3 separate regions of the Homo sapiens genome follow, and all the other regions are linked to region 3. The links come from fine-mapping of genetic effects on gene expression. A gene starts in region 3. Each other region holds a variant in brackets. All regions are shown on one strand. Distances are from middle to middle. Region 1 overlaps SYTL4 (synaptotagmin like 4). Region 2 overlaps SRPX2 (sushi repeat containing protein X-linked 2). Region 3 holds the start of SYTL4 (synaptotagmin like 4).

Evidence for each region. PIP is the estimated chance that this variant, and not a neighbour inherited with it, causes the effect.
Region 1: its variant is the best candidate, but not a certain one, in a credible set for the expression of SYTL4 in subcutaneous fat (GTEx, PIP 0.68).
Region 2: its variant is the best candidate, but not a certain one, in a credible set for the expression of SYTL4 in nasal epithelium (TOPMed, PIP 0.59).

The regions. Positions count from the first base shown.
Region 1 is chrX:100,679,955-100,682,805 of GRCh38, reverse strand. SYTL4 (synaptotagmin like 4) reads left to right here. Exons shown (of 20, transcript NM_001370165.1): 17 at 1,471-1,579. Among named protein-coding and RNA genes, the nearest start is that of SRPX2, 37 kb to the right of the region's middle. The variant T/C (reference allele first, on the strand shown) is at 1,656.
Region 2 is chrX:100,668,238-100,671,053 of GRCh38, reverse strand. It overlaps SRPX2 (sushi repeat containing protein X-linked 2), which reads right to left. Exons shown (of 11, transcript NM_014467.3): 10 at 1,685-1,806; 11 at 1-247. The coding sequence ends at 67. Among named protein-coding and RNA genes, the nearest start is that of SRPX2, 25 kb to the right of the region's middle. The variant T/C (reference allele first, on the strand shown) is at 1,238.
Region 3 is chrX:100,730,780-100,733,279 of GRCh38, reverse strand. It overlaps SYTL4 (synaptotagmin like 4), which reads left to right and starts at 1,159. Exons shown (of 20, transcript NM_001370165.1): 1 at 1,159-1,276; 2 at 1,775-1,862.

The DNA of each region.
Region 1 (2,851 bases), 51 kb after region 3:
TGCAAAATTTATAATTGTGGCAAATCCAAATTCGTGTAACAGAGTTTCACCTAGCCCTCAAATCTTTGCAAGCCCTCCTTTTTTCTTTTTTTGGGGGGAGGGACAGGGTCTGGCTCTGTCGCCCAGGCTGGAGTGCGGTGGTGCGATCTTGGCTCACTGCAACCTCCGCCTCCTGGGTTCAAGTGATTCTCATGCCTCAGCCTCCCAAGTAGCTGGGATTATAGGCCCACACCACCCCGTCGGCTGATTTCTGTGTTTTTTGTTGAGACAAGGTTTTGCTGTGTTGTCCAGACTGGTCTCGAACTCCTGGACTCAAGCATTTGCCCACCTCAGCCTCCCAAAATGCTGGGATTACAAATGTGAGCCACTGCACCTGACTGAAAGCCCTCTTTTTTTTTTTCCCCTGCAAGCCTTCTTTTTAAAAATACCTTGTAAAAATACTTTGTATTTTTAAAAACCATACAAATGATATATACTATTCTCATTAAAAGGACACTAAAAGTTAATATGGAGTAAAAAAGGGAAAGTTGTCTTTCATTTCCCTATTCTGTTGCCCTCCCTAGAGGAAACGAGGATAAGTTTGTTCGTATCCTGGGTTTTTCTATGCAGTGTAGTATAATGTTTAAAAGCACGGACTCTGGAACCAGTCTGTCTGAATTTGAATCCTAGCTCTGCCAATTACTAACTGTGTGACCTTGGGCAAGTTACTTAGCTTCTCTGTTCCTCTCTTCCATCAGTTGTAAAATGGAGTTAATAGTACCTGTCTCATAGAGACAGTCATCAAACAAAATGATACACCTAAAGTACTTATAACAGTGCCTAGTACATAGTAAGGGCTAACATAAGTGATAATGGCAATCGTTATTTACATACATTTATATTCACATGTACAACTATGAATATATTTTAATATAAGTGGAACATTTTTCTGCATCTTGCTTTGTTGACTTAACCCTATGTCTTGGATATCTTTCCATGTCAGCATGTACAGATTCACTGAATTCTTTTTTGATGACTGCATGCCATATGCCATACCAGGACACTACAATTATTCATTTAACTCTTTCTATAGTGATTGACATTTAGGTCGTTTCCACTTTTTGGCTATTACTAACAATGCTGGTAGCAAGATTCTCTGTCATGCTGTCAGTCCTTCGTGAGTTTGTATGGCAACCTTGCTTGAAGATCTTTGAGAGTATTTGGAATCTAGTAACTATGCCCCCAAAGTGGCATAATAGTGGGTATTGCAGAAGACTCTTTGTTGGTTCTGCCCTATTTCCTTCTAAAGAAACTGCCATAGAAACCTGTGGCTGCCATGGCCTAGGGACGGTGGATTATATTCATATGAAGAAGGATCCTCTTTTGCCCTGATGCTGTTCTTGGGGGGTAATTTTAGAATTTTTTTCAGAGAGAAGTCCCAACAATTCTTGAGAAGCCCAGCTTGACCTGTTGGGTTTCCCTGTGTTTCAGATCAGTGCTGAGTCCCCGACTGGCTTGCCATCACACAAAGGCGAGTTGGTGGTTTCATTGAAATACATCCCAGCCTCCAAAACCCCTGTTGGAGGTGACCGGAAAAAGAGTGAGTTTTCTTTGGGGTCCTGGATGTAGCTTAGTCTTCTGCATAGGATCTGTGCAAGGCCGGTGCTGGCTACTGG[T/C]TAGCACTGTTGGAGAGACCAAATTGGGATGCTCCCTGGATCTGCTAGGGAGATTCCTTTACTAAGGAAGCCTCTCTGCGTTTTTTCAAACAGAAGGGAATGCCTTAGGGTTGGCATTCTTTTCTTTTTTTAGGCTATTAAATGGACTTGGTCTTGGTCCAGCTGTGGCAAGCTACTAAGAGGGCAGAAGAGAACAGAAACTTTGGGGCTGAGAAGGGTGGCTGGGAGAGGTGGTAAAGTATGAAGGACAGGAAGTTGAAAGCTGGGGAAGAGTAATTCAACATGCCAGCTGCTGTGTTAGTGACTACGGTTGTGTAGATGAGTAAAACATATTTGCTTTCCCTTGAGGAGCTTAAGTTTTTGCAAGAAAGACAGTCATGTGCTAAAAGGACACAGATATAGGAGTGGTGAATTATGTCTGGTTACATTTGGGAGAGCTTTGAAGAAGTAACATTAAAACTGGATCTTAAAACTTTACCAGACAGAAAAGGAGCAGGATGAGGAGAGAAGAGCATTTTCAGAAGAGGGGATAACATGCGCAAAGGTTTTAAAAAGGCATGGTAATGTGGGGTTGTATGTGAGTGTGTCCCTTATTTTAGTGGGACTGGAGTTCTGGTACACTAGATGTAGGTGTGGGGCTGGAGTTGGACATGAGGTGGGAGCCTGACTGAAGAGGGCCTTGAACTTAATGATAAAGAGTTTCACTTGATCCCTTGGCAATGTGTGGCCTACGTTCTTTGAAAAAATATACCTTTGGCAGAGTCACATCTAGAAGGTTTGGGGGAATCAATGAAATCCCCAATGAGGGTATGTAGCATGACTAGAGAAGAGAGGCAAGTATAGAACCAGAGAGATCAGCAACATTTTAAAGGATGAAGAGAGAAAGAAACACCAGTGAAGTAAAAGGTTATCAGGAGAGAGCTTCAAGAAGAAGGGGCGGAGGTTATCAACAGTATTGAAATACTACAGGGAGGTCAGACCAGATGAGGTCTGAGAAGACATGGCCAATTGGCATTAGATTGCATTTTCAGTGGATCAGTGAAAGCAGAAACCAGATTTCACTAGAAACTAGGCTGAGTGAATGGGCAAAGAAGTAGAGGTGGTAAGTGTGGACTTTTTTTCCTCAGGATAATTGATGGTGAAAGAAAGTAGAGACATGGAGAATAGCTTGAAGAAGAGATAAGGTTAAAGGGAGC
Region 2 (2,816 bases), 62 kb after region 3:
TTAGGTCCCAGTTTCAGCTAACTAGAGGAGCTTTTCCCTTGACTTTAACCATGCCCTGGCTCAAGTTCACTCGCATATGTCCCTTTGCTCCCGACGCTGGGTCAACTCCTGATTGCTCAGTAGGTAGTCATCAATGAATGTGAAGATTTCCTCGGGGGTGACAGGTTCCATGTAGCGGTCTCGGTCAATACCCTGCTTGTCAATCAACACCATGTTGAAGTAGGAGCGAGTGAGGCGCTGAAATTGCCTAGAGAGAACAGCCCAGGGAGGTATGAGACCTTGTCTGGGCACCCATCCCCACAGGCTCTACTACCCTCTGACTTTTTGCAGCTCCACTCATGGACTAATTCCTTCCCCACCTCATCCCTGGTCCCCATTCCCTCTACTTCCTGTCTCAAGTCGCTTTGTTTTTCTGTGTTCAGATTCTACTCTTGCTGCCTCTATGCATCTAGTTCTGCTAAGCTGTCCCTTCCTCACCTCAGCTGCAACAACTTTGTTATTAACAGGCGGTGCTTTCATTGTAGGCCCCTTTAAGCAGGGCTATCACATATTGCTGTGCAGGCTGCACAGGGTGACTCCAGGGGCCACCCGCTGCAGAGACTGTGCTGTGTATGCACATCATACATGGCAGCCCTTAGGTTGATAAATACCTTCTGGTTAACTCTTCCATCTGTAGCTGCAAGTCTGCAGTCTCCCTCTGAGGGTTTTCTAGTCTCTTCTCTAACTAGGACTGAATCTTTCTGTCCCCACTGAGACTGTGCCCTAGAGGCAGGTATAGTTTCTCTATCATTTAGAGGCACTGCTCTAAAACAGAGCAGTGATGGCTTTATTGGCCCTGAATATATGTGAAGGCATTAGAAGGGTGATACTGGATAGATAATGAGAAAGACCCACTTCTTCCATCACCTGTCACCTCTAATGTTCTCTTCCCCAGGATTTGATAGATCTTACTCAGATTTCAGTGCTTAAAGATGCCTTTTGCGGCCAGGCATGGTGGCTCATGCCTGTAATCCCAGCAGGTTGGGAGGCGGAGGTGGGCAGATCACCTGAGGTCAGGAGTTTGAGACCAGCCTGGCCAATATGGCGAAACCTGTCTCTACTAAAAATACAAAAATTAGCTGGGTGTGGTGGTGCACACCTGTAATCCCAGCTACTCGGGAGGCTGAGGCAGGAGAATCACTTGAATCTGGGAGGTGGAGGTTTCAGTGAGCTGAAATCGTGCCATTGCACTCCAGCC[T/C]GGGCGACAAGAGCAAAACTGTGTCTCAAAAAAAAAAAAAAAAAAAAGATGGCTTTTGCTCCTTTGGAGACTGAAGGCAAAGAGATGAGGCCAGAAAACAAGAGCAGGGGCTTATCTGAGTCAAGTTTGGGTTTACTGTCTCAGCCCTGGCTGTGCTTCAGAGTCCCCTCAGGTGCCTTTGTAAAAGCACATTCCTAAGGTGGTTTAGGATGGGGCCTGGTCATCTGTATTTTAAGCCCTCATTTGATTCTGATGTTCTACCAAAGTAAAGAAACTACTCTCTGGTCTTACCTAATGCATCCATAAGAGTTCAAACGCAAGAAGTGCCGCAAGAGAGTAGTGTCTGATGGTTTCCCCATAGTCCGCTTTTGCCAGTGTCCTGCCTAGGGTTTCTCCCCCCGCCCCAGCCCCCCCTCCCCCCAAGTTTGGCAGCCTCCCAGCCTGGACCTGAGCTCCTCGATGATGTTGGCTGACAGCTGTTGCTCCCGGATGCGCCCCACCTCCTGAGGTGGCTGTCCCACCAGTTCAATGATGGTCACATGCCGCAAATCCAGTCCACAGGTGGATTGCTGGGAGGGAGACAGAACATTTTATGCAACAGAGCTGTGCGTTCAAACCTAAGGCTACTTGGCTGATTCCTCCTGGGACCATATGAAGCAGTGTGGGAAAGGAGCTCCTTCTCCCCCAATGATCACGCAATCACACTGTGGGGTCTACAACAACCTGTTCCCTCTGTCATTCCTGAAGTACTTGCCCCAACAGTGTTTCCTTCATTCTACTGAAACCAGTTACACAAAGTGGGGTAGAGAAGAGAAATGCAATGAGTAAATTGCAGGAACATAATCATTTAGCTTTGCATAGGTTTTAAATTACATAAGTTCTTGATGGATAGCCAATGTGATATGATAATGGCTGTTGTTTATTGAATACACAAACCTAATGCTTTGTAGACATAATCTAATCTTCACAACACCCCTCACAAGCCAGGTGGTGACAATAACATGCTGAGCCAAGATTCAAACTGAGGACTGATGCCCCCTGCCCAAGCGTGTGCTCTTTACCAATAGGCTACCTGGCCAGGGCCTTCGCTCGGTCTCCAGGATTTCTCCAAAATTGTGCCCAGTGCTCTTTTCATTACCCCTTGTTACCTTCCTTGCACTGGGCAGTGCAGCTTGCAGTCCTACCCCAGATCTCTGTCCTGCCTTGTCTTGCAGGATCACCTGCTAGCCATTTACCAGGGTGAGGTTTAAAGAGGCCTTGAATACTCCCCGGCACCCCACCTCTGTTTCATCTTTGGGCTTCCCCTCTAGTCCTTACCCTCAGAGTCACTATGCTTGCTGACAGGTTCCTTTTCTTGTTCTTACTCCCTTGCTTCCAAAGGAACTGTTGCCTTTGTCAGTCTTTTTGGATCTCTAGATGAATAAGGCCCTCTTTTTGGTCTAGACCCTCCAGGGTCCTTTTTTTTTTTTTTTTCTTTTTTTTTTTTTTTGTAAAACTGCTTCCATCCTGGGCCTCTGAATATTCACTAGGCAACTTCTAAGATTCAATCTTTAGAAGCCTCCTAAGTAGCTTTTTCTCC
Region 3 (2,500 bases):
CACTGAGGAGAGGGCAAAGGAGTAGGAGGAAAAGCAAAAGAGTAAAATGTCATAGATGCCATAGAAAGTTTCAAGGACGAGGAAATGGTTAACGGTGTTAAATGTAGGGGAGAAGTCAAGCAAAATAAGGACCAAAAATACCTTACTTATTTATGGATTTATTGACACTGAGGGTCATTGTTTGTGTATCTCATTGAGAAGTTTCAGTGGGGGAAGGAAGCCAGACTGCTGAGAGCTAAGAAATGAATGAGAAGTAAGGGAATAAAAATTGCAATTTCACCTGTGAAGTACATTTTCAATACATTTGCCCATAAAGAGGACCTGAAGAGGGACCTCCTGTGTAGGGAGGTTCTTTTTTTAAGATGGTAGATACTTGAGCATGTTTAATTGCTGATGTGAAATGAGGGGGAGAGGGATGGGAGAGGCAGGGAGAGGAATCTGCAATTACTGGGTAGGTATAAACATTTTCAAGTCTATTGATACATATTGCTCACGTGCTTTCTAAAAGGGTTTTTAACCAACATATGCTGCTATCAGCAATTAAGACAGCTTGTTTGGTGGCTACTTTGTCATCATTAAGTGTTATTAAAAAATAAAAAATATCTTTGCCAAAGAATCTCATTATTGTTCTAATTTGCTTTTCTTTGATTACTAGTGAGTTGGATATTTTAACCAGTTGTGTCCTTGAGTGTGTATGTATGAATTTAGTCTACGCTTTTGCCCAAAACGTTTCTATTTTAGACAGACATTTATTTGCCATAAAAGGCCACAAGTCAAAGGATCAGAATGGTATTATATTTTATTTACTCAAATTAGATAGTTCATACTCTTTTATCTTCTTAGAAGTGTGAGACAATTTGACAACTTTTGACTCAGCTGAACGAAAGAGACAGGTGATTTCACCGTCTAAGAGAGTGACCAACAGATGGAAGTAAGTGGGTGAGGAGGCACGTCTAGTGTTAGACCCCTATCCTCAGTCCCCAGGCTCCCATTCCTAACCTGGAAGGACATTCCTCTTGTGTCTCAAGGCTTTGGGTCCCAGAGCTCCCTTTTGGGCTGAGTGGCCCCCTGCTAAGGAGCCCGGGGCGCTGTGCGGCCCCTTTAAGAGTCCAGCTCCTCCCCGCTCCAGGGAAAGTTGCAGCTTTTTCCGCCTCCCGGGAGGGTGAGAAGGGCCGGCTGCCGGAGCTGGGTTGCGATCTTCCCGGAGCCGGAGACCCTCCCTTGAAACCGGCACTGGGACTTCTCGATCTCTGGAGGCACCTGTTGCAAGTGACAGGTAGGTCAACAGCCAGCGGCCGGCCCCTCGCCCTCGGTCCGGTGCTCCTTCTGGACCCCCAGCTCCTTTTCGCTGCTGAAGCGCCCCCACCCCCATCTCGGGGTCGTGCGTCTTCCCTACCCGCTCTCTGGTCCCCCAATTTTTCCTTCTCCCTAGCTGACCGCGTCTCCCCTCTCCCCGTCCGCCTCTCCCGACCGCATCCCCAGGCTTGGACTCCCGTCTGCTTGGGCGGTCCCTCCCGGCCACTTTTCTTTCTCCAGGGCTTCTTCTGGCCCCTTCCCTGACCCACCCAGCACTAATGCGGTCTGTGCCCCTCTGGGAGCCGCCTCCCCTCTCCTCTTCGGCTCCCCTCGCGGGGAGTGCCCGGGCTTTTTCCCGCCAGCCCGAGCTGGTGCCCCTCCCGAGAGCTGGCCCTGGGGGCGGGGGCGGGGCCGAGCTCCTAGCGGGAACTGCGCCCTCCAAGGCGTCCAGTCACCTTTTCGTGGGTTCCTCTCACAGCGCTCGGCCGTCGAGCGGGGTCGCTAACCCGCACTCTCTTCGGACCTACGACATCGCGGCTTCTCTGGCGTTGGCCAGTCAGCCACAGGTAAAGGCTGGAGGCTGGTTGGCTGGAGTCCTGCCTCAGTGGGCTCCCTCTGCGCTTGGGGCTGGGGACCTGGCTGTGTGCTGTGGAGCTGCTTTATATTGCCGCTCTTCAAGCAGGCTGTGAGAGATCTGGTACTGGAGGAGGGTCCCCGAGATCTCAGAAGGGGCACAGAATGCTTCTGTCTCCTGTGTTGGTTTGTAATGGGGCAGAAAAAGGTGTTCCTCCAACCCTTAACATTGAATGAGGTGGGATTTGGGGTGGTGAAATCATTTGGTTAGAATTCTGGTGGCTTGAAAAGTGGTGACTTTCTAATCAAGCTTTTCTTCCCCCAGTACCCTGCTTCTTCAGGATTAGAGGACGTAAAATTCCAGAGTACTGTGCTTGGCAGGGTTGACCCTAGACCTTGTATATTTGTGGCAAAAATGAGTCTTCTGTACATCCTGGACCTCCTATATTTAACTGGCTTATTTTCTGCTCTTTAAGCTCCCCACCCCCACCTCTCATAAATCTATTAATATTGAGGTATTAATGACTTAAGACTTTTGTCGCTGTGGGAACAATGTTTAATGCAGAGACGTGGCCTTGATGAAGTTTTCTGCGTTTTTGGTTGTTTGGTTTTTAGCACCCTAGTAGAAAAG